Linked DNA regions of Homo sapiens. The protein of the gene in region 1 purifies or fractionates together with the protein of each later gene. This does not show direct contact. Each region holds a gene or a part of one and is shown in the gene's direction. Other genes may lie near its edges.

Region 1 (3,500 bases):
TGCTGGCTGACCGGGCTGTTTGCCATACTGTGCTTCCCACACGTTGGTGCTTCTCAGTGTTCAGGGTGTGGGCGGGTGTGTGTAGAGGCGGCTGTACTACTGTCCCCTGCCTATTTCCTGCCCTCTTCATAGCCAGGCAAAGTAGCAACTTGGAGGCGGAAAACCACAGTGGTGATACCCTATTTACATCCTTTACAATGACCTAGTGTCCCTCCTGTTTTGCCAGCTCTCATGTTGCTGCCTCCCCCAAACATCCCTCTCATAATTTGTTTAAACAGCAGCCATGCCCCCGTATCTACTTCTTTCAGCCCAAACCCAGATGAGTCACTGAGAGAACTTCGGACAGGGATTCTTCACCATGAGATTGATGGCAGGGAGTGGAAGAATTGTAATTCTGGAGAAACAGCCCTTAAATTAGGGGCATTGTTCTGGGAAAAAAAGTGTTTTCCTATTCAGCAGATCTGCAAAGGAGTCTGTGACTCTCCAAAAGACTACAGATTTAGGGAGTACAGTGCAGGTGTCTTTTAGAAAAATAAATTTTTTAAAAATCGAAAGATTAGGTATTTTTCTGTCTTCCAAGTAATAGTTCAGATAAACCTGGTGTTTGTGTGGCCTCTCTTATTTTGTCATGAGGGCAGCGAGCCATGGTAGTTGCATATGGATTAGTTGTGATTTCTCCTTATGTGGCAGGCTGAGCCCCAGAGGATTAGAACTAAAGCTCAGGACTTCGGCTGTCTTTTGGATGGCTGCCTGGGTAGATATGCAGATGAATTCTCCACACAATGATATTGGGGCTCCATGATGTGTGGGGTTGGGAGTGGGGGCAAGAAGTCAGAGGATGGGGTATAGTTTTTCCTCACCCTTGCTCCTAGGTTAAGTCCTCATTGGTCTCCCTGTAGAGTCTCCTGTGGAGATGGGTTTGTAGCCTGTCTGCTTGGATGGCCCTGCAGATTCTGCCTTGAGTGTGGTCTTTGCCTTGAAGGTCTGCTTGTCCTTTTGTGTTGTAACAATGTAGTTTTAGGGTTCAAGTATGGAGCTGTGAATTGACCTGGCCCAGAGTTGCCTCAGATTCCCTCCTCTTTGCAGAATGTAGGCAGGTATTGGTGTGGGGATCCAGGGTATTTACTGGTAAGGGAAAGAATGTGTTGTTCATGATGGTAGGAAAGGCCCCCTTATTGGCTTGCTTCTTGGCAGACCAAAGAGCTGAGATACAGCCATGTGGTAGTGCTCAAGAGGTCTGAGCAGGCTTCCGTGAGATGATCTGAGCGCTTGGATTCCTTCTGCCTGGAGATGGGTAACATTTGAGATTCCAGTTTGGTTCTGAATTCTCTCATTGCCTTCTGCCAGGCCATCCTATCCCTGACATTGTAGTGCCATAAGAAGTCATGGATGTTGTGATGCCAGTGGGATGAATATGGCTCCAGGAAAGAATAGAATAGAGAGGGGTTCATTAAGTTAAGGCTTGGGGCTATAACACCAGAGCCACCCTGAAAATCACAGGGAAGAACCAGCAGGAGGGTGAGAAGAGACAGTGTATTCATATTTTGGCTTTGGCATTTTTTCTGCATAGACAAGGGTCTGTAAAGCTATATTAGATACTATGTTGGTTCAACCCTCCACTATTAGGGTAAAATCTACCTTGGATAGAGAACCTGTTTGGGAAGAGGAAGGAAGGAAGCAAGATGGGTGGGTGACCCTGATCTTCTCTGAGGTATCAGTTGCATCATCTCAGGCCTCCTCTGCCTGATCCTTCTGTCATCTGCTCCATTAGCTCCTAGGCTTTTGCAAAACTGGAAACCCTTCATCTGGAGCCCTCAAGAGCAGTACTACTTAATATGCCAATCTTCAATGAGATAAGAAGCATATGTACCAGAATGTAAGACTGATCTCTTCATCAAGAAAATCTTGTATGAAAAAATGTTAGAACTAGACAGTGTGTTTACTCTGACATAATTGATTTACATTCAGGCTTCATATAAGTTTTCTATATAGTGACCAGCCAGTAACACAGTTTGCAAATTGGCAGCTAATCTGCAGACCATACTTGGAGTAGCAGTGCTCTAGAGCTGCCTTTCATTCAGAAGCAGTTGTTGAGGTCATGGAGTTGTTTGTTTGGTACAGGCCAAGGGCAGTCAGAAATATAGAGCCCTGGTTAAGAAGAGCTGTCACCCAGAGCATTCAGACATGGGTCAGGGCAGCTACTGAGGAGAAGAGGGGCACAACGAGAGTGAGACAGCTGAACAGATGATCAGGCACTGCCTATGCCAAGGGTAAATGCCATGTCCTCCCTTTCCTTTACCACAGGCGTGTGAGCTGAGGGACTAGAGCTAGGGTCTTGGTTTTGCCTGTTGCTTCTAATGGCAGGTTGGCCGCACCAAGCTTACCCTGTCTTCCTAGGGAAACGGCATACACTGGAGAAGAATGTGTTGGTTGTCTCTGTAGTCACACCTGGATGTAACCAGCTTCCTACTTTGGAGTCAGTGGAGAATTGTAAGTACCATCCTGTTCCCTGTCTTAGAAGAGCAAACACTTGTCTGAAGCTGTAACTCTGGATGGCCTGGCCTAAACTGCTGATGCTCGGCCTGGAGTCCCCCTTGACCCTGGGGACCGAGGGTCACCAAGTGCTGAGAGCCATGGAAGATGAGTTTTTCCTATGCAGAAACTTAACCAGTGCTAAAGGTTGGCTGTGGAACATCACACTGGCTCTTCACTGAGTCCCACAGGACTTCTACCTGGTGTACTGAATACATTTCTATTTTAGGAAAGTGTATACTTTGCTACTTTTCTCTAATAGACCCTACACTGGGGAAAGCAGGGGTTCTGGTCACTTATACTGAGATGAAGTTAAGTCATTAGTCCAGTGACTGCCTCCTGTCTTCCCTGAGCAGCATTTGGGGACTTCTCAGTCTCCAAAGTGAACAGTTGAGTTTGGCTCCTTCCTCACATTCTTGGAGGAAGTAGCTGAAGCATAGAGGAAGGGGAAAGGAGGGTGATTACAAAGGCATTGGGAGCATCGCGTGCTGCACTCACCCCTGCAGGCATCCCTGTTCCCTTTGCCAGGAGAAGACTTCTTTCATCTTTCTGCTGTGGAAACTGACCCATGAGGTAGGTGGTGCTTTGTACAGACCTCCACTCCAGCCTGACTCTTGCTGTACATCATCATCCAGGGTCTACAGAGTCACTGTGGTGACCACCCTCCCACTCTGGCCCCAGACCAGGCCATCCTACAGCTGTCTTGCTCTGGGGACATCTCCTCATTGAAAGATTTTTTAAAATATATGGTCTTACTGTTTTTTTTTTTTAGTCCAGTGATTTATATAGAATATCTGGTCTATAATCTGAGAATAGAAAACCTTAACCAACTAAATGAGTTCATTTCTGTCATTTCAGATACCCTGACCATAAATGATGACCAGTGTTTACTCCTCTCTGAGACTGTCTGGGGAGCTCTCCGAGGTAACAAATTGGGGCTGATTAAAAGAGAGAGAGAAAGGATGATG
Region 2 (3,500 bases), on another chromosome or scaffold:
AACTTTGACTCTTCCTTTGAAACTGACTTTTTAAAAATGTATTTCATTTTGCTTTTGTTTTCTTTATCAATTTTTCAGGTGATACACCTTTTTATGCAGATTCTTTGGTTGGAACTTACAGTAAAATTATGAACCATAAAAATTCACTTACCTTTCCTGATGATAATGACATATCAAAAGAAGCAAAAAACCTTATTTGTGCCTTCCTTACTGACAGGTAAATAATTTTAAAACTGAGCCTGTATTAATTCTGAGGACTTCTCATCTTCTGCTCCATTTTTAAGGTCCATATCTGAGCTTCTACATGTAAATTGTTAGAATATAAATGACAGTGAAACCTGATGTAATTTTATGATATTCTAGATGTCTTTTGTAGATCTCAACTCACTTATCATACCTAAGAAATTGTGATAATAATACAGTCTTGGCTGATGGCTAAACTAGATGACTTTTTTCTTTTATTGTTCAATTTTTAACTTGGTTAATTATAAAAATTACTGTGTATTTTACTGAATCTAAAAAAATTTTTTAACATAACATCTCTGAAATTAGAGTACATCTCACAGTCAATGGTATGAGTTGGGAGCATCCTTTTTCATAGTGGTATAAAAACGGTGATACACCTTATACTTTAAACCATTTTAGATTTGATGATGTATGGTATATGGTTGTTGAAAGAGTCAATAGTATAAAGCCATTTTTAAAAGTATACTATCTTTTTTCTTCTAGACATAATAGTTGGTGTTCCATCTTGTAGATCCAACAAGCATTTTAATAATAATGTCTGTCTGCATTTTTGAAAGAAAAATGGCATATTATATATACCTTTGTGGTTTACTTTTGAAATTTGAAAGTGAACCAGATGTATTAGTAAGATTATATTTAATGTTTATGATTGTATATTGTTAAATATTAGGGAGACCTAGTACTTTTAAATATGTTTCAAGTTGAGATTTGCTTTAACTTGTCTCCCTTCATTATGTCCTTTAGAGCTTGAAGTATGGTTTTTCAAATGTTTACTTTTTTTTTTTTTTTTTTTTTTTAAATAGAGACAGGGTTTTGCTCTGTTGCCCAGGCTGGTTTCAAACTCCTGGGATCAAGTGATCCTCCCACTTCAGCTTCCCAAAGTGCTGGGATTACAGGCCTGAGCCACCCATGCCTGGCTAATTTTTACATTGATTGATTGATTGATTGAGACAGAGTCTCACTCTGTTGCCCAGGCTGGAGTGCAGTGGCATGATCTCGGCTCACTGCAACCTCCACCTCCCGGATTCAAGTGATTCTCCTGCCTCAGCCTCCCAAGTAGCTGTGACTACAGGTTCCTGTCACCATGCCTGGCTAATTTTTGTATTTTTGATAGAGAGGGTTTCACTATGTTGGCCAGGCTGGTCTTGAACTCCTGACCTCATGATCTGCCTGCGTTGGCCTCCCAAAGTGCTGGGATTACAGGTGTGAGCCACCGCACCTGGCCAATTTTTACATTTTAATATAAAGCATTGTATTATGCTGTTTATTAGGTGCTAGGGATATAGTAGTGAGGAAGATACAGAGCCACTTTTCTCAAATACCTCATAGTCCTTTGGGGGAATTAGATAAGCAAATCAGACATTTATAGTACACACAGCTAATTACCATGAGATAAGTACCATGTGCCGGAGAACCATGGAGAGGTTTTCTAATCCAGTTTGAGAGTTAGTGAAAGCTTCTTGGAAAAATTGTCACATGTCTAAGCCAACTTATCTTTTAGCTTATGCAAAAACTTAGAATTTAGAGTATTTTCTTTATTTATAAGCACTGTACTAGGGAAAAAAGGTGCTAACTTTCTTTTTCCAATTCAGCTAAAATCACATTTTTAAAAACTTTTTGCTCACCAAAAAAGAGGCTGGTATCAGTAACTTGTCCAGTGAAAGCTCTGAATTCTGTGGCAGTATCAAGAATTAGTAGTCATTGGCTTTTGAATGGTCAGAAATAATTAATAGATTATAAATTGGAAGTTCAAAATTTTAAATGTGTTTCTGGAGGTTTTTGGTAGCATCTGGTATTGCTGCCTAAGTAAAGTTTTGGTTGGGGAAAAAAAAGCCTAACTTTACCATTGTAAGAAAAAAATAACACACACACACAAAAAACTGTCAAGAAAATGCATGGTGCTTTATTCATTTTGCTAATGAAGTAAGGTGGTGATTAATCTGGATTTTTGTTGTCAGTAGAAAAGTCATGGGTGTTTTTTGTAGTTATTCTTTAGTTTTCTTTTTTTTGAGACGGAGTCTCGCTGTGTTTCATCCAGGCTGGAGTGCGGTGGCGCAATCTCAGCTCACTGTAGCCTCTGCCTCCCGGGTTCAAGCGATTCTCCTGTCTCAGCCTCCCAAGTAGCTGGGACTACAGGCGTGTTCCAGTACACCCGCTAGTTTTATATTTTTAGTAGAGATGGGGTTTCACAGTGTTGGCTGGGCTGGTCTCGAACTCCTGACCTCAGGTGATCCACCCCACCTGAGCCTCCCAAAGTGCTGGGATTATAGGCATGAGCCACCATGTCCAGCCTTTCTTTAGTTTTCTTTTAAAAAAATTCTTTAATGTTCTCAATCTTTAACATATTTTCTATTTGGGCTGATACTATGCTGACAATATAATTTCACCTTAGAACTATATTTGTCGTCCTACACTGATTTAATATCCTGCCCACAAATAAACCTGGACAGGTTATAATAAGATCTTAAATGATTGATTACTTTTCTCCTTCTGTCATTATTCAGGGAAGTGAGGTTAGGGCGAAATGGTGTAGAAGAAATCAAACGACATCTCTTCTTCAAAAATGACCAGTGGGCTTGGGAAACGCTCCGAGACAGTAAGTTTTTTTTTTTCTTTCATATTTTAGTGAATATTTGAAAGTAGTTGTGGTAGTTTGTTGAAACTACATTGCTAAATATTTGTGTGTATCTGATGAAAATCAGAAGCCACAAATACTATATGGGAATTGTCCTAACCTATTAATTTGATAATATTGGGCAGATTATATTGTTACTCCTCTTATGTCCCACGCAGGATACCCAGATGAAATATAAATGTAATGGATTTAGGCTCACCAGTCATAATTTTACATTTGATCTTTGTTGAATTGTTCATTTTAGGCGTTAGTTATCTTATTATGGAGGTGGTCAATAAGTAGTAAGTAATGAGATTAAAATATATGTTTTTGTGAGAAGACAAGTTATTCTCTTGTTTTTATTAAAACCCAAAATATAAGAAGGTTCTATTATTAATTCCAGAATTCAATTTAATTTTATTTATGAGTTTATAGGATATTGTGATATACTTGATTCCATCAGGCTTTTGCAGCTGGCAATTCAGAAACAAAAATGTATTGTATAAGAAACTAATTTTCAGTCAGTTTAGAACACTTTCTTACTTTTTAAAAAAAGTTAAAATTACAAGATGATTCACAGAAAACTCTACAACATAGCTGAATCAAAATTATCATGACACCAAAGGTTCTCATCATCTTC
Region 3 (3,500 bases), on another chromosome or scaffold:
TGCAGTTTAACGTTGGAACGTACAGCCTCAGACGGGCAAAGGGGGCGACTGCACTTCTGCCGCCACCAGGGTTTTTCTGTCAGGTTAGAAAGTATTTCACTTTGAGGCTAAAAGTCTCACAAGGTATCTTAACGCTGATGGAATGTTATTTTCATGGAATCAGTATAAGAAATTATATTGTAAAGTATTAGATACTTTGCATTCATTCATACTAGGTTTCAGTAGCTTGTGTTTTAGACTTTGCGCTTGTCACATTTTAAGTGGTCAGTGACCACAGGCTTGTGGCTGCCCAGCTGCAGAGCACAGTGCAGTCACAGAGGAGCCTGTCTTAGAGACGCGTGCTTTAGGTTGGCCTGCATTAGGGCTTACATTGATGTTTCTGACGTGTTAATACTTACATAGAAAGGTTTTGACATTTTTTCAATTAGCCCCTTATGTATAGTCTTACTTTTTAGAACAACTTATTGTCATTTTCTCGTTTAAATAATATGAATACTTCTCTCTTTCTGTTACTATGTCAGTTTCTTATTCACTTAGTTCAACAGATCTAGTGCTAGCATGGCCTGTGCTGCTGTTGGTCCTACTGGGAACGCAGGTAGAGTCTCCATGGTCAGGATGCCGTGTTCTGTTGTGGTGCTGAGGCCTGTAAGCACTTGGCTAGAAGTTAGGCCAGGGAAGCTCACACTGACCTTGGTATTTGAAGGTCCCAGAATGAGGTTGTTGAGGTAGAACAGAGATGGGAGAACATGCCCTTGGAGCTGGACTCAACAAGAAGGCCCCTCTGGGGGAAGCTGAGGTTGGACAGGAAGGGCGTGTGCCCTCACTGACTTGCTCACAGGCTTGGGGTTCATCTGTTTTGGTTTTTGCTTTTTTACATTATATTAACATGGAAATAAAAGGTGTTCCCTGGGATGCTCCCGGCTTCTCTGCTCAGTAGCTTTGTGGCTCTGAGTAAAATGAACTTGCCTGTGTTGAAATATCCTAATTTTTAAACTTACTTCATAGGGACTGAGGAATTACGACTTTTATCAATTTTGTGACCTGTTAAAATGTTAAAAAGGACATGTATTTTTTAAAGATCTTTAAGTAAAACATTTTGCTCATTCCCAAAGCCAAATTTAAATTATACCATGGCCCTAATTCAGAAGTTCATTCTTTGGCAGGTGTTTCCTTGGTGCCTGGGGCACTCTCTCTTTCTCCCAGTTCCTGTGGCAGTTTGTCCAGGTGCCCAAGAACAATTCATACCCTCCTTTCTCGTTATTTATATACTTGTCTTTTTGCCCCTGCCGGGTATTTTAGAAATCGTGCTTGGTGCACTTTGTGTCCTTCAGTGTGCCTTACCCAGAGCAGATGCACGATAAGCATTTTTACACGAGAACAAGCTGGTGGTGTAGGCCTCTGCTAAGGAACAGGCTGTATATGCTCTTTGTGGGATTAAGGTAGAATCAGCTTTAACTCCAAAGAAACTGTCCATGAATTTTGTTTATAATAGCAAGTAGATTTAAAATGACACTTTAAAAAAATTCTGTTGTCTTTCTCTACATATAATGCTGTAGAAAAATATAACTGATGGATTTTGTGAACGTGGTATTTTTAACTTTTCGTAGCAGCACAAAGAATGCTCCTCTTTGTGTGTCAATGAAATTGTTCTTTATGACAGCTTCAGGGTAAATCTGCAGAGACCAGAGAAAGCACACAGCTGAGCCCTGCAGATCTCACAGAAGGGAAACCCACAGATCCCTCTAAGCTGGAAAGTCCGTCATTCACAGGAACTGGTGACACAGAAATAGCTCATGCAACTGAGGATTTAGAGAATAATGGCAGTAAGAAAGATGGCGTGTGTGGGTAAGAAAAGTGGTTATGTCTTGATCTAATACGCTGGTGTCTTCACAGTCCTTTTGGATTAAATGGGATCCCAGAGCCACTTCTTGGTCGGTTTGAGGGGGCAGTACATGTGTGGTATCAGGCACATGCAGTGTGAGGGCTGGACTCTGTGGAAGCCGGAAGGTTTCAACATCTGCCGCAAACCGTTCCATGTTGCACAGAACTGACAGAAAGGAAGAATGTGCTTTTGGTATTGAAGGTTACCACACATTACAGATTGATTTGTCTCATCCTGATTCCCTTTTTAGTCCTCCTCCATCAAAGAAAATGAAGTTATTTGGATTTAAAGAAGATCCATTTGTATTTATTCCTGAAGATGACCCATTATTTCCACCTATTGAGTAAGGATTCAGCCTTTTTAATTATTCATTTAAAGAAATTTACTATAGAGTATCAAATGTACAACTGATCACATGTAACCATTGTTTTGTATGTAGTTCTGTCTAGCTTTTTTTTTTTTTTTAACCTTTTTAACTGCATATTAGAGCAGGATGAAACTTTAGAGGTTACTCAATCTTTTAATTTAAGGAGAAAGTAAACTTTTACTTTGTGAACATGATAGATAAAAAAAAACTGGACCGGGCGCGGTGGCTCACGGCTGTAATCCCAGCACTTTGGGAGGCCGAGACGGGCGGAGCACGAGGTCAGGAGATTGAGACCATCCTGGCTGACACGGTGAAACCCCGTCTCTACTAAAAATACAAAAAAAATTAGCCGGGCGTGGTGGCGGGCACCTGTAGTCCCAGCTACTCTGGAGGCTGAGGCAGGAGAATGGCGTGAACCTGGGAGGTGGAGCTTGCAGTGAGCCGAGATCGCGCCGCTGCACTCCAGCCTGGGCGACAGAGCGAGACTCCGTCTCAAAAAAAACAAAAGAAAACTGGACTGTGATTATGAATCTAAATTAGTTGTGATCCTGAACCTAAATTACTCAATTGAGTATATAGACGAGTAGCCAAGGTTGTCTAGTTCAGTTTCTGTAGAAGAAATGAAGAGCAGCATGGGTGAGGGCTAATTAGGGATGACATAGACAGAATATAGAGGAAAAGGGTTTAGGACAAGTCTGACATTCATCTGTTTCTTATTCATTGAATTTTAGAATCTATTTACCAGGGCGGTCACTTACTGTCTTTTTTAATAACTGGTCCTTTGCATACATTTGTAAAAGTCTATTAAAAAATAAGTCTCAGCCGGGCACATCCCAGCACTTGGGGAGGCTGAGGCAGGCAGATCATGAGGTTAGGAGTTTGAGACCAGTCTGACCAATGTGGTGAAACCCCGTCTTTACTAAAAATACAAAAAAAAATTAGGTGTGGTGGCGTGCACCTATAATCACAGCTACTCAGGCTGAGGCAGGAGAACCGCTTCAACCCGGGAGGCAGAGGTTGCAGTGAGCTGAGACTGCGCCACTGCACTCCAGCTTGGAAGACAGAGCAAGACTCCATATCAAAAAAAAAAAAAAAGTCTCAAAAGTAGTGTTATCAGGTCATTATCATTGGAGTAGCGGCTGAGGGAGAGAAGCTGCACTTGTTAATTTAGGTTTCTGATGGAGTTGTGCCCCAAATAAATGTTACGTGGAGGTTTCAGGTGGAAGTGGATGAAGTTTAGAAGCTGGAGTC
Region 4 (3,500 bases), on another chromosome or scaffold:
ACTGTGCACACACAGCAGGTTTCATGAGAAGCTGGAGCACTGGCTCATGGTTGTTAGGAGGCACCAGCTGACCTGTTTCCTGTATAGGCTCAACCTCCTCAGAAGTGGACACCCATTACTTCTCGCTGTTTCTGTGTGATCTCCATTTCACATTTCTAAAGGGTGGATCTTTTGGGGTCACTCGCTATTTTCTAATACAGAATGCTCCCGTCAAGCTCCCTTATTGATAACTGATATCTCTTATGTCCTGCCAGCAGTGCACGATTGGCTTTGAGACTGCCTGATCCACTCACTCGTAACCAGCCAAGTACTATGACCCAAACTATAGCAGAATTTGGCACAAACAGGTCCCTGGTAGCTACTTTCCTCAGGAAGGCCTATGGATTTGGAAAACACAGGTGTCTCATAAGGACATACTCATAAATTGTTTTCATGTACAATAATTCTTGTGTGTACTTTCCTCCTGTTGTCATCAAAGTGGTCACATATTAAAACTTTTCTGCTAAATATGAATCCTCATGTTTAATGGCAGAGAACCCACCATTCCCAGCACACTTACTTCTGTCTCTGGACTAATCTTGAGTAATTGGTTTTCCTTTGCTTAGGTCTTATTGAAGTTAAAACAGATGAGTTTCCTCGCCATGGGAGCAACATAGAAGCCATGTCCAAGCTAAAGCCTTACTTTCTTACTGATGGAACGGGAACAGTCACCCCAGCCAATGCTTCAGGTTAGATTTTCTGAAGGACATCTGGGGGAATACTATGTTCTATAATGTCTACCGAGTGAATATTTTTCTCTTTATTTATATACAAAAGTACTATTTTTTGGGACAGGGACTCACTCTGCCAGCCAGGTTCGTGTGCAGCAATATGATCATTGCTCACTTGCAGCCTCAAACTCCTGGGCTCAAGTGAGCCCCCTGCCTTAACCTCCCAAGTAGCTGGGGGACTACAGGCATGAGCCACCACACCCAACTCAATATTTATGTACAAAATTATTCTTAAAACAGTTTAAGGAAACATGTCATTTCTCTGTATTTGATCATTGACTTAACCTATACTGAAAGAATTAATTTGGTTTCTTGACATCCCAACTAGACATACAAATGAAGAAGTAAATTAGGGAACTTCAGTTTATCTACCTTTGTATTTTTCCAGTACCAGAAACTCCCAATACCTCCTTGTGAAGCCCAGGCTTATTCTTCCATTTCCTGTCAGAGATCTCCCCTCCCCAACTGCTGTAATCCTTTTTTTTTCTTTTTGAGACGGAGCCTCACTCTGTCGCCCAGGCTGGAGTGCAGTGGTGCAATCTTGGCTCACTGCAATCTCCGCCTCCCAGGTTCAAGCAATTCTCCTGTCTCAGCCTCCTGAGTGGCTGGGACTACAGGCGCACACCACCACACCGGCTGATTTTTCTATTTTAAGTAGAGATGGCTTTCACCCTATTGGTCAGGCTGGTCTCAAACTCCTGACCTCAGGTGATTCACCCTCCTCCACCTCCCAAAGTGCTGGGATTACAGGCGTGAGCCACCACGCCCAGCCCCGACTACTGTAATCCTACCACTTTCTCTAGTTGGAAAGTTTTGTGGTCAATATATTGCCAAACATAATTTCTATGTAAAGTCTGTTGAATTATAGTAAATGCCTTAGCCAACAGGTAAAATCATTTAACTCATGTCTTCAGGTGGTAAAGAAGCCACAGATATGTAACTGAGGTTAATAAGCATGGTAGAAATTAAGTCACTCATATTTTACAGGAATAAATGATGGTGCTGCAGCTGTCGTTCTTATGAAGAAGTCAGAAGCTGATAAACGTGGGCTTACACCTTTAGCACGGATAGTTTCCTGGTCCCAAGTGGGTGTGGAGCCTTCCATTATGGGAATAGGACCAATTCCAGCCATAAAGCAAGCTGTGAGTATAACCCTATTCCCTTTTATGAAATTTGTCTTCCTGTTAGCCTTAAGTGAGCTTATTCATGTAGTTAGCTCTAGTCTTTCCCTACCAGAAGAGTAACCAAGAGCATTTATTTCTATTTTTGAGATAAGGTCTTGCTCTGTTGTCCAGGCTGGAGTGCAGTGGCACCATCATAGCTCACTGCAGCCTCAAAACTCCTAGGCTCAAATATTCCTCCTGCCTTAGCCTCCCATTACCTCGAACTACAGGTGCACCACGCCTTCTTCATTTCGTAGAGACAAGGTCTATGTCGCCCAGGCTGGTTTTGAACTCCTGAGTTCAATTGATCCTCTTGCCTTAGGCTCCCCAAGTGTTGAGATTTCAGGTGTGAGCCACTACCCCCAGCCACTGAGAGCATTTGGATCACATGCTTTCTAGGGGAACTGATTCTGTTACATTAGCCTTAGGTACACATAACAGATGCTACTGGTTCAAAATTTTAAGACAATTTAGAATTTCTAAGGGATCTTTTAGATCACACCCTTAACCTTTTGGATGGAATGGATGTCACTAAGGCAAAAATGTGTGAGAATGTCACTGTATTAACCTAAGAACAAACCAAAGTAGCAGTTACCAGTATCATGCAGCATATATTTATGTTGACAAAGAATGGTTTAACTTTAGCCTTTCCACCCAAGTTTAGACCTCTTTTCTATGAATCTTTCCTCTAGGTTACAAAAGCAGGTTGGTCACTGGAAGATGTTGACATATTTGAAATCAATGAAGCCTTTGCAGCTGTCTCTGCTGCAATAGTTAAAGAACTTGGATTAAACCCAGAGAAGGTAAAGATGCACAAGTAACCCTGAGAGCTTACCAGTGAATTTCACAATCCAATTTTAAGATAGTATCTTCTAGGTGTTGGCCATGTGGGTAATAGTTAAAGAAATACTAGTTACTAGGACTGAGTTCATTACTTCCCAAGGTTTAAAAAAAAAAAAAAAAAAAAAAAAAGACATTGGCTTACTTGGCATAAAAGGAACGAGGTAAGATAGGCAGGGATGAATTTTCACAAAGGTGTAAATTTATTCCTAAGCAGTTAAAATGAAAATTTGAGTTTGAAAGGGTAGCATGCTGATACATTAAGAGGAAAAAGACAAGTTTAAGATTTTAAACTGTGTCCACAGAAGAATAAACAATCTAAATCTTTTCTCCCCCGTTAGGTCAATATTGAAGGAGGGGCTATAGCCTTGGGCCACCCTCTTGGAGCATCTGGCTGTCGAATTCTTGTGACCCTGTTACACACACTGGAGAGAATGGGCAGAAGTCGTGGTGTTGCAGCCCTGTGCATTGGGGGTGGGATGGGAATAGCAATGTGTGTTCAGAGAGAATGAATTGCTTAAACTTTGAACAACCTCAATTTCTTTTTAAACTAATAAAGTACTAGGTTGCAATATGTGAAATCAGAGGACCAAAGTACAGATGGAAACCATTTCCTACATCACAAAAACCCAAGTTTACAGCTTGTACTTTACTTTAATGTGTAATACTCAACTCAAGGTACAAGACAATTGCATTTAACATTGTTATAAATAAAAGGAACATCAGA
Region 5 (3,500 bases), on another chromosome or scaffold:
CCAGTCATTGGGATCAGTTACTTACCATCTTAGAAACTTACGTATGAAGTAATGGGAAATTCGGTGAGAATCTGACTTGTATCCCTGTCCACAAGAAAGAGATGTTATAAAATTTATAATGGCTTTATTGAGATATAATTCACTTATATACAATTCATCTGTTAAAATGTACAATTCAAGTTATTAGTATAGTCACAGAGTTGTACAACTATCATCACAATCATTTTAGAACATTTTCTTCATCCCCGAAAGAAATCCTGTTACCTGTAATCAGTCACTCCTCACCTCAGCCCTTGGCAACCACCAACACTGCATGTCTACTTCCTGTCTTTACCGATTTGCCTATTCTGGACATTTTATGTGAATAGAATCATATACTATGTGGTCTTTTGTATTAGGCTTTTTCCCTTAGCATGTTTTCAAGGTTCACCTATGTCATAGGTGTGATTTCTTTCTTTTCTTTCTTTTTTTTTTTTTAAATGAGACGGAGTCTTGCTCTGTTGCCAGGCTGGAGTGCAGTGGCACGATCTTGGCTCACTGCAGCCTCCACCTCCCGGGTTCAAGTGATTCTCCTGCCTCAGCCTCCTGAGTAGCTGGGACTACAGGTGTGCACCACCACACCCAGCTAATTTTTGTATTTTCAGTAGAGATGGGGTTTCACCATGTTGGCCAGGATGGTCTCTATCTCTTGACCTCATGATCTGCCCGTCTCAGCCTCCCAAAGTGCTGGGATTACAGGCGTGAGCTACCGCGCCTGGCGTGATTTCCCTTTATTGGCAAAGAACATTCCATTATATGGATAGACACTTTTATTTATCCATTTATCAGTTGGGCATTTGAGTTGTTCCTACAGTTTGGCTGTTACAAATAATGCAGCTGTGAATATTTGTGTACAACTTTTTATAAGGATATATATTTTCAATTTTCTTGATTGTGTACCTAGGAATGGTTTTCCAAAGCCATTACACCATTTTACATTCTCATCAGGAATGTTTGAGGGTTCTAATTTTTTCTATACCCTCACCCGCACTTGTTACTGTCAATCTTTTTTATTATAACCTTCCTAGTGGGTGTGAAGTGGTATCACATTGTGGTTTCGATTTGTGTTTCCCTAATGACTAATGATGAGCATCTTTTCATGTACTTCTTGGTCATTTGTGTACTTTTGCTGGAGAAATGTCTATTCAGATCCTTAGCCCATTTAAAATTGGGTTATATGTCTTTTTATTGTTGAGTTATAATAGTTCTTTATATATTCTGGATACTAGACTCAACAGATTTACAGATGTTTTCTCCCATTCTGTGGGTTGTCATCCATTTTCTTGATGGTATCCTTTGAAACACAAACATTTTAAATTCTGATGAAGTCCAGTGTATCTCTTTTTTCTTTTGTTGCTGTGCTTTTTGATTTGTGTCTAAAGAAGTCATTGCCTAATCCAAGGTCAGGCAGACTTATGGTTGCGCTATAAGAGTTTTACAGTTTAGCGCCTACGTTCATACCTGTGATCCATTTGGGTTAATTTTTTTTTATTTTCTTTCTTTCTTTTCTTTCCTTCCTTTCCTTCCTTTTCGTTCTTTTTCTTTTTTCTCTCTCTCCTTCCTTCCTTCCTTCCTTCCTTCCTTCCTTCCTTCCTTCCTTCCTTCCTTCCTTCCCTCCTTCCTTCCTTCCTTCCTTCCTCCTTTCCTTTCTTTCCTTTCTTTCCTTTCCTTCCTCTCCTTCCTCTCCTTCCTTCCTGTCTTCCTTTCTTTCTTTCCTTTTCTCTTGCTCTGTCGCCCAGGCTGGAGTGCAGTGGCCCGATCTCAGCTCACTGCAAGCTCCCCCTCCTGGGTTCACACCATTCTCCTGCCTCAGCCTTCCGAGTAGCTGGGACTACATGCGCCCGCCACCATGCCTGGCTAATTTTTTGTATTTTTAGTAGAGACAGGGTTTCACCGTGTTAGCCAGGATGGTCTGGATCTCCTGACCTCGTGATCTGCCCACCTCGGCCTCCCAAAGTGCTGGGATTACAGGCGTGAGCCACCGTGCCCGGCCCATTTGTGTTAATTTTTGAATATGATATGAAGTGGGTTAAACTTCATTTTTCTTTTTTTGAGACAGGGTCTCTCTGTGTCACCAAGGCTAGACTGCAGTGGGGCGATCACAGCTCACTGCTGCCTCAACCTCTCTGGCTTAAGCGATCCTCCTGCCTCAGCCTCCTAAGTAGCTGGGACCACAGGTGTGCACCACCAAACCTGGCTCATTTTTGTAAATTTTGTAGAGATGGGTTTTGCCATGTTGCCCAAGCTAGTCTCGAACCCTGGGACTCAGGCAGTCTGCCTGCCTTGGCCTCCCAAAGTGCTGGGATTACAGATGTGAGTCATTGTGCCTGGGCTTTTTTGTTTTTTTGTTTTTTTTTTTGAGGCAGGGTCTTGCTCTGTAACCCAAGCTGGAGTGCAGTGGTGCTATCATGGCTCACTGCAGCCTTGACCTCCAGGGCTCAAGTGATCCACCCCACCTCAGCCTCCAGAGTAGCTGAGACTACAGGTGCACACCACCATGCCTGACTAATTTTTGTATTTTTTGTAGAAACGGAGTTTTGCCATGTTGGAAACTTTATTCTTTTGCATGTGGATATTCACTTGTCCCAGCACCATTTGTGGAAGAGACTATTCCTTCCCCATTGAATGGTTTTGGCATCCTCAAAAATCAGTTGACAGTTGTGAGGGTTTATTTCTGGACTGTTAATTCTGTTTTACTCATTTGTAAGTCCATTCTTATGCTAGCACCACACTGTCTTGTATTTAGGTTTGAAATTGGGATGGAAGAGTTCTTTTCAAGATTTTGTTCTTTTTCAAGATTGTTTTGGCTATTCTGGGTCCCTTGCATTTCCATATGAATTTTAGAATCTGCTTGTCAGTTTCAACCTCCAAGCTAGCTAGAATTTTGGCAGGGAATGCATTGAGTCCATAGATCAATTTGGGAATTACTGCCATCTTACCAATAGTAAACCTTCCAATCCATGACCATGGAATAGCTTTTGTTTATTTAGGTCTTCTTCAGTTACTTTCAGCAGTCTTTTTTAGTTTTTGTGGTGTACATTTTGCACTTCTTTTGTTAAATTTATTTCTAACTATTTTTTGTTTTTGATATTGTAAATGGACTTTTCTTAATTTTATTTTTGAATTGCTCATTACAAGGATATAGAAGTCAAATTGATTTTTTAAATATTGATTTTTGTATCCTGCATTCTTGATGAACTCAGTTATTAGTTCTAATTTTGTTTGTGGATTCTTTAGGATTTTCTGTATTCAAGATTATGTCAATTGCAAATAGAGATAGTTTTACTTCTTCTTTTCTAAACTGGATGCCTTTTGTTTCATTTTCTTGCCTACTTACCCTAGATAGAACTTCTGGTACAATGTTGAATAGAAATGCCAAGAGTAGACATCCCTGTCTACTCTGCCAAGAGTAGACATTCCCTAGATTATAGGGGAAAGCATTCAGTCTTTCAGCATTAAGA
Region 6 (3,500 bases), on another chromosome or scaffold:
CAGTGAGCCAAGATGGCGCCACTGCACTCCAGCCTGGGTGACAGAGTGAGACTCTGTCTCAATAAAAAAAATAATAAAGGGCACAGACAAGTGGGATCAGGATACTTTGAAATGAGAAAAATACCCTCTTTTTCAGAAAGTAGAAAGAACCACAATGAGATAATAGTATTGATTTTTCTTAACTATCAGATCACCTCTTGAAACTGAAGAAAGAACATTTAAGATCTGAGGAAGGTATTGGAGGTTCAAAGTTGCATGTGGCTATTATGTGAAGAAATTAACTAGATAGGAATTTGATCCATGGGTCATGTTGAACGTACAGTTGATGACAGCCCAGCGTGGTATTTCTTCATTTTAGAGTGATATTTCCCATATTATGCAGAGGTTAAAGATTTTGGACAGATTACCAGAACAGAGACACAGGCCCTGGGAACTATTGATGCGTAATAGGTTTGGCTTCTGATATGTGTGATCAAGTTTTTTATTATTTCATGCTTACATTGTTCAGCCTTTGATTACAGTCAGTGCAATGTTAAGACTCTGCAGTGCTTCCCACTAAGACATCTCTCTTTTAGTTTCCTGTGGGCCGCATCCACAGACACTTGAAGACTCGCACCACAAGCCATGGAAGGGTGGGTGCCACTGCTGCCGTGTACAGTGCTGCGATTCTGGAGTACCTCACTGCAGAGGTTTGTACAGGAATGTCTGTTGTATATGGCCATCCAGAAGGTGCACTAGTCTCAGTGACAGAAACCCATGGAATATATTTGAAAAAAGACATATTATGCTCACTGGGGCTTTTTTGTTTGTTTGTTTGGAGACAGAGTTTCACTCTTGTTTCCCAGGCTGGAGTGCAATGGCCAGTCTCGGCTCACTGCAACCTCTGCCTCCCGGATTCAAGCGATTCTCCCACCTCAGCCTCCCAAGTAGCTGGGACTACAGGTGTGCACCACTGTGCCCAGCTAATTTTTGTATTTTTAGTAGAGACAGAGTTTCACCATGTTGGCCACACTGGTCTCAAACTCCTGACCTCAGGTGATCTACCTGCCTCAGCCTCCCAAAGTGCTGAGATTACAGGCTTGAGCCACCACGTCCGGCCTCATTGGTTTCTTTAATAGCAGTTTGAGATGCATCTTGTCAGCTATTACCCAATGCCAATGTAAAAGAACCTTGGTGTACTTGTTTTTAAAGCTAAGCAAGGGGCTGGGCACAGTGATTCACGCCTGTAATGCCAACACTTTGGGCGGCTGAGGTGGGTAGATTGTACACTTGAGTCCTGGAGTTCCAGACTAGGCTGGGTGACAGAGCAAGACCCTATCTCAAAGTAAAAAAATTTTTAAAAGTTAAGCAAGGGCCAGCAATCTCTTATCTTTTATTTTTATTTTTTTATTTTGAGACTGGGTCTCACTCTGTCACCTAGGCTGGAGTATAGTGGCATGATCATAGCTCACTCCAACCTCAAACCTCCTGGGTTCAAAGGATCCTCCTGCCTCAGCCTCCCTAGTAGCTGTGACTTCAGGTGTGTGCCACCACACCTGGCTAATTATTTATTTATTTATTTATTTATTTATTTATTTATTTATTTTGAGACAGGGTCTTGCTCTGTATCCCAGGTGGAGTGCAATGGCACAATCTTGGCTCACTGCAACCTCCACTTCTTGGGTTCAAGCAATTCTCCTGCCTCAGCCTCCCCAGTAACTGGGATTACAGGCACCCGCCACTACACCCGGCTAATTTTTGTATTTTTAGAGGAGACTGGGTTTCACCATGTTGGCCAGGTCAGTCTCAAATTCCTGACCTCAGGTGATCCACTTGCCTCAGCCTCCCAAAGTGCTGGGACTACAGGTGTGAGCCACTGCGCTGGGTGCTAATTTTTTATTTTTATTTTATTTATTTATTTTTTTTTGAGACAGAGGCTCGCTCTGTCACCCAGGCTGGAGTGCAGTGGTGCAGTCTCGGCTCACTGCAACCTCCGCCTCCCGGATTCACGCCATTCTCCCACCTCAGCCTCCCGAGTAGCTGGGACTACAGGCACCCGCCACCACGCCCGGCTAATTTTTTTTTTTTGTATTTTTAGTAGAGACGGGGTTTCACCGTGGTAGCCAGGATGGTCTCGATCTCCTGACCTCGTGAGCCACCCACCTCCACCTCCCAAAGTGCTGGGATTACAGGCGTGAGCCACCGCGCCCAGCCTATTTTTTATTTTTTTGTGGAGACAGGGCTCCCTATGTTACCCAGGCTGGTTTCTAACTCCTAGCCTCAAGTGGTCCTCCCAAGTTGCTGGGATTACAGACATAAACCACCATACCCCAGTGAACTTTGAAGTATGTATGTAATCAGTAGACAGTATTTGTGAAGTTAGAGCATAATGTTGTAGTTTATGAAGATTTGGGATGATGTAAAGTTTGGCCAGTGTGATGATATATAAAAATCACAAATATGATAATAGAAGTAAAAGACTCAGTCTGTCCTGGTTCTCTGCAGGGTTATACATACAAAATTGCTGTATATTACTCAGTTTGAAATTTCAGGAAGACAAGTTAATTGGGCAAGAGTTCTTGGGTCACAGACCACCACTTTCCCCATCCCTATTCCTCCTTTAAAAAAATCCGTTGGGAAGTCATAAAACTTCAGCTACATTCCAGATTGGGGAAGTAATTTGAGTAACAAGTAGGTCAAGTGTAGACGCATTCATTCTGGTGGAAACAGAAGGGTCTTACTTGGGGAGATGTGATTGGGAGCTAGGCTGAGGAATTTAGCTTTTAATCTGTATGTCAGTTATCATTGCTGTCATTTATTTCATTAGTCTCACCAAGTCATCTGTGTCCCACTGGGGATTTAACATCGAATTATGGATGTTATGGATAGTTTCAGCTTCTCTGTGTCATGATCAAGGGGTGTTTTGTTTTTGGGGTTTTTCTTGTGTGTTTGTTTTGAGACAGGATCTCTCTCTGTCTCCCAGGCTGGAAGGCAGGGACATGATCTCTGCTCATTGCAACCTCTGCCTTCTGGGTTCCAGTAATTCTCCCACCTCAGCCTCCGGAGTAGCTGGGGCTACCGGTGTGCATCACCACACCTGGCTAATTTTTGTTATTTTCTTGTAGAGACAAGGTTTTGCCATGTTGGCCAGGCTGATCTCGAACTCCTGACCTCAAATGATCTGTCCGCCCCAGCCTCCCAAAGTGCTGGGATTACAGACATGAGCCACCTTTTATTAAAAGAGGCCACCTGGCCTCTTTTATTTTTAAAAATTTTTAAATTTTAATTAAAATACATTTTAAAACTTTTCTATAAGCATTAAGAAATAAATTTCACGGCTGGGCACGGTGGCTTACGCCTGTAATCCCAGCACTTTGGGAGGCTGAGGTGGGCAGATCACGAGGTCAAGAGATCGAGACCATTCTGGCCAACATAGTGAAACCCTATCTCTACTAAAGATACAAAAATTAGCTGGGCATGGTGGCGTGTGTCTGTGTATAGTCCCAGCTACTCAGGAGGCT
Region 7 (3,500 bases), on another chromosome or scaffold:
TGAATAAATGATCTGTCTTTATAAAGGAGATGGAAGTGAATTCAAGATATTGAGATGTTAGATTTGACTGGGTTGTCCTTTGGCTAGAAGATCACCAGATAAAATGTAAACCTCCTAAACTAGATGAGATGATACCATTAAACATTTTTTTTGGCCCAGCACTTTGGGAGGCTGAAATGGGAAGATCGCTTGAACCCAGGAGTGAGGCTGCAGTAAGCTATAATCTGCCATGCACTCCAGCCTGAGCAACAGAGTGAGACCCTGACTAAAAAAAAAAAAAAAAAAAAATGTTTTTCCTTTGGTTCTCATGATCTCACACTGATGAATCTGATTGTTTTCTCTGAGTTATTTTGCCTCTCTCATGTTATTAGGGTAACCTGATAATAGACATGTTATCTTAGTTGTGTGGTATGTGACAGTGATCTCCTAAATGATGTGCATCAATCATTGATACTGAGGATGATCAGAAAATATTACAACTGTTATTGATGTTTACTTTTTTAATCTACAGATTAATGATAATGCATATTAATACTTAATATTCAGATTGCCAATAGTATATATTTGGTGGATAAATATCTTTTGGATCTGCAAAATTTTCACTTGATAGTTTATATCAGGATCAAAGCAGTTTAAAGAACATTAAAAGATAAGAATTTGGCATCTCATTTCTCTAAAAGATAAGTCATGTGTGTCCACATCTCAGGCAATTTTTTTCAGTTTTAATAAGTTTTATTCCTCATAATAAAATTTTTTTAACAGAAAACTCTTGATTGCTGTAGACCTCTGCTGTGTATTCGGTAGTCACTAGCCATATGTGGCTATTTAAGTTAATTCAAATTAAATAAAATTAAATATCAGCTCCTCATTTGCAGTAGTCAGATTTCAAGGACTAAGTAGCCACATGGACAAGTGGAAGGTGGTGTTCAGTTGCTGCTCATAATAGTTGATACCCTAGGATTTGGAGATGCAGTGTGGATACACAACAATTCCATCATCTCAGAAAGTGTTATTGGATAGTGTGGCTACAGACTTTTCTTGCTCAGCAATCTTAGTCTCCGCATGTTAGTCTCTTCATGCATCAGGTAGCATCTATAAAACATGCCAAAAGGAAGTAGGCTATCTCTAAAAGTGTCCCAAACTTTTTGTCTTGTAAATTAGCTTATCAGCATACTTGGAGCCTCTAGCCTTAATAAGGACTTGTTATCCTTATTAAATGTGTTATCAGGAGAAAGCCTGTCTTTTTCTGGAGGAATTATTCCCTTTTCATTTGAATCCGTGTTTGCTTTATCTTGGGTTCCTGAAAACTGATATTTTGCATTTAACAGCAGCATATGCCCAGGATGAATGATAATACATCTTCTGATACAGAGCTTGAGATTACAGAATGTCTTAAATTGTTCCAGGAACTGTTGTTATCATTTAAGTCCAATAATCAGTTAGTAAGGTTTCACCCTACCAGAATACACTTTTTTTTAAAATAAAAACTGTCTGGACTTTTGCTGATTACATTGTCCAGAATGTGGAGTATCACATTTGAGAAAAGGATTGGATCCTAGCCATAACATAAATACAAGGGTAATACATCCATGCTGAGAAAGATTAAGGAATGATAGTAAGTTTATTTGAGTGAGTGGTTGGGGCCAAACTTGATAGAGAATAGTCCAGGAAGACATTTACTGTAAATGGTAGATTAGATGTTCTTCTCTGATTAATTACATTTGAACTCTGTGAATTATTAAATCACTCAAACTGCTTATTTGTATTATTAGATGCACATTTAAGTTATATAAGTATTACATGTCTTTAGTGGTGATCACTATTTTATCAGTTCCTCTGTCTGTCTTTATACCAAGTATGAGTCATAAACCCAGTATGAATTTGCCAAGAGATTGGCAGACTATTTGTATATATGCTTTTCTTTCAAATAATCTGGATTTCCAATGCCCGCTATCATCAATTCTAAAGGTAATGTGGTAGTAGGTAGATTTAGTTTGCTAACAGTTTCCCAGTTGGTTTTGATAAACTCGAACGTCCCTACCATCACCCCTTGTAGGAAATCACTGATGTAATGTATGATATTAACATCTGCACCAATTACTCTTACAGGTGGAACAATCCAAAGTTTTAATCAAAGAAGGTGGTGTTCAGTTGCTGCTCACAATAGTTGATACCCCAGGATTTGGAGATGCAGTGGATAATAGTAATTGGTAAGAAGGGTTTGTCCTCACAACTTTGCAGTGCATTTGGGGTACTGGGGTGGTTAAACTTTTTCTTCTTAACATTTTAAAACTTCTCATCTTAGCAAAGGTCACCAAACTTCAAGCAACATGACTTGGGTTTGTATACCAACTTTGCCACTTATCTGACAAAGTTGTTTAACTTCTTTGAACCCATTTACTTTTCTATAAAATGGAGATAATACCTATCATAAAATTGTTTTTAAGACATATTCTAAAATAACATAGGTAAATAGAAGAATTCTCATTATTGTAAGAAATTTAAAACTGTTCACTTTAATTTTATTCATTTGTATAAATTCTATCTCAATCCTAATTTAAACCTGATATTTAGACTTTCAGTTTTTCTGTAAGTCCTAAGTGAAGAAAACAACTATGAAATTTTAGTCTGAAGTAATTATCTTAGTATTTTATAAATAATACTTTTATTTTTGTTTGAATTCACATTGTTTTTGAGGTAATTTTCTGTCAACTCTTAAAACTCCCAAGTTCACCATGAAGTTTTTTTATTATTTAAAGTAATCTCTCATTTGAAATTTTAAACTGCATATAATTGTTTTCATATTATGAAGTGTGTTATTAATACACTTATTAGTGCAAATAATATGCTAATATTTAGCTGTGTTTCGACAGTAAATAGTTTATTTTCTTTCATTTGGAAAGTTTTGAATAATGAATATTTATTCAACATAATTTATATTTTTGAATATATAGAATAACTTGACATATCTTCTACTGGTAAATTCATTTTGCCCATTTGAAAATACTGATTATTGTCCTTTAACAGTCATCAGTTAATTCATATGTAGAATTGCAGCTTGTTTTGTTTATTTGCGTTCTATAGCTGGCAGCCTGTTATCGACTACATTGATAGTAAATTTGAGGACTACCTAAATGCAGAATCACGAGTGAACAGACGTCAGATGCCTGATAACAGGGTGCAGTGTTGTTTATACTTCATTGCTCCTTCAGGACATGGGTCAGTACCTTGATACTTCTGATTCCTTTTTTGTTGTTGTTGCTTACTGTTACCTTTATGTGCATACTTTAGTAATCTTTAAGTTTGTGAAGTACACACAACTATAGCCATTATGAAGTACTAAATTTCATGTAGAAATGTCTTAGTTGAAAAGCCATTTTAAGTCCTATATAAGCTAACAGTGATTTTACTCCTTAGTTCTTCATTCATAAGGATTTTCCCTGCTTCATGAAATAAACAGTGTTGCCACCATGGTTTGAGGTCTCAATGTGGCAAATTTA

The links.
Region 2: the proteins of HEXA (region 1) and ROCK1 fractionate together in Homo sapiens (co-fractionation; one large-scale study listed by BioGRID). This does not show direct contact.
Region 3: the proteins of HEXA (region 1) and NSUN2 fractionate together in Homo sapiens (co-fractionation; one large-scale study listed by BioGRID). This does not show direct contact.
Region 4: the proteins of HEXA (region 1) and ACAT2 fractionate together in Homo sapiens (co-fractionation; one large-scale study listed by BioGRID). This does not show direct contact.
Region 5: the proteins of HEXA (region 1) and XPNPEP1 fractionate together in Homo sapiens (co-fractionation; one large-scale study listed by BioGRID). This does not show direct contact.
Region 6: the proteins of HEXA (region 1) and H2AZ2 fractionate together in Homo sapiens (co-fractionation; one large-scale study listed by BioGRID). This does not show direct contact.
Region 7: the proteins of HEXA (region 1) and SEPTIN7 fractionate together in Homo sapiens (co-fractionation; one large-scale study listed by BioGRID). This does not show direct contact.

Annotation. Positions count from the first base shown.
Region 1 is NC_000015.10:72,355,515-72,359,014, reverse strand, and holds part of HEXA (beta-hexosaminidase subunit alpha isoform 2 preproprotein), read left to right. Parts: intron 1-2,364; coding exon of another isoform or gene 2,365-2,397; coding exon 2,398-2,490; intron 2,491-3,390; coding exon 3,391-3,456; intron 3,457-3,500. UniProt on the Homo sapiens protein: Hydrolyzes the non-reducing end N-acetyl-D-hexosamine and/or sulfated N-acetyl-D-hexosamine of glycoconjugates, such as the oligosaccharide moieties from proteins and neutral glycolipids, or from certain mucopolysaccharides.
Region 2 is NC_000018.10:21,038,814-21,042,313, reverse strand, and holds part of ROCK1 (rho-associated protein kinase 1), read left to right. Parts: intron 1-78; coding exon 79-217; intron 218-2,750; coding exon 2,751-2,842; intron 2,843-3,500. UniProt on the Homo sapiens protein: Protein kinase which is a key regulator of the actin cytoskeleton and cell polarity.
Region 3 is NC_000005.10:6,605,545-6,609,044, reverse strand, and holds part of NSUN2 (RNA cytosine C(5)-methyltransferase NSUN2), read left to right. Parts: intron 1-1,660; coding exon 1,661-1,845; intron 1,846-2,132; coding exon 2,133-2,225; intron 2,226-3,500. UniProt on the Homo sapiens protein: RNA cytosine C(5)-methyltransferase that methylates cytosine to 5-methylcytosine (m5C) in various RNAs, such as tRNAs, mRNAs and some long non-coding RNAs (lncRNAs).
Region 4 is NC_000006.12:159,775,545-159,779,044, forward strand, and holds part of ACAT2 (acetyl-CoA acetyltransferase, cytosolic), read left to right. Parts: intron 1-605; coding exon 606-728; intron 729-1,757; coding exon 1,758-1,912; intron 1,913-2,625; coding exon 2,626-2,736; intron 2,737-2,953; exon of another isoform or gene 2,954-3,114; coding exon 3,115-3,285; 3' UTR 3,286-3,500. UniProt on the Homo sapiens protein: Involved in the biosynthetic pathway of cholesterol.
Region 5 is NC_000010.11:109,917,012-109,920,511, reverse strand, and holds part of XPNPEP1 (xaa-Pro aminopeptidase 1), read left to right. Parts: intron 1-3,500. UniProt on the Homo sapiens protein: Metalloaminopeptidase that catalyzes the removal of a penultimate prolyl residue from the N-termini of peptides, such as Arg-Pro-Pro. Contributes to the degradation of bradykinin.
Region 6 is NC_000007.14:44,838,088-44,841,587, reverse strand, and holds part of H2AZ2 (histone H2A.V), read left to right. Parts: intron 1-575; coding exon 576-689; intron 690-3,500. UniProt on the Homo sapiens protein: Variant histone H2A which replaces conventional H2A in a subset of nucleosomes. Nucleosomes wrap and compact DNA into chromatin, limiting DNA accessibility to the cellular machineries which require DNA as a template.
Region 7 is NC_000007.14:35,870,557-35,874,056, forward strand, and holds part of SEPTIN7 (septin-7), read left to right. Parts: intron 1-2,109; coding exon 2,110-2,210; intron 2,211-3,084; coding exon 3,085-3,219; intron 3,220-3,500.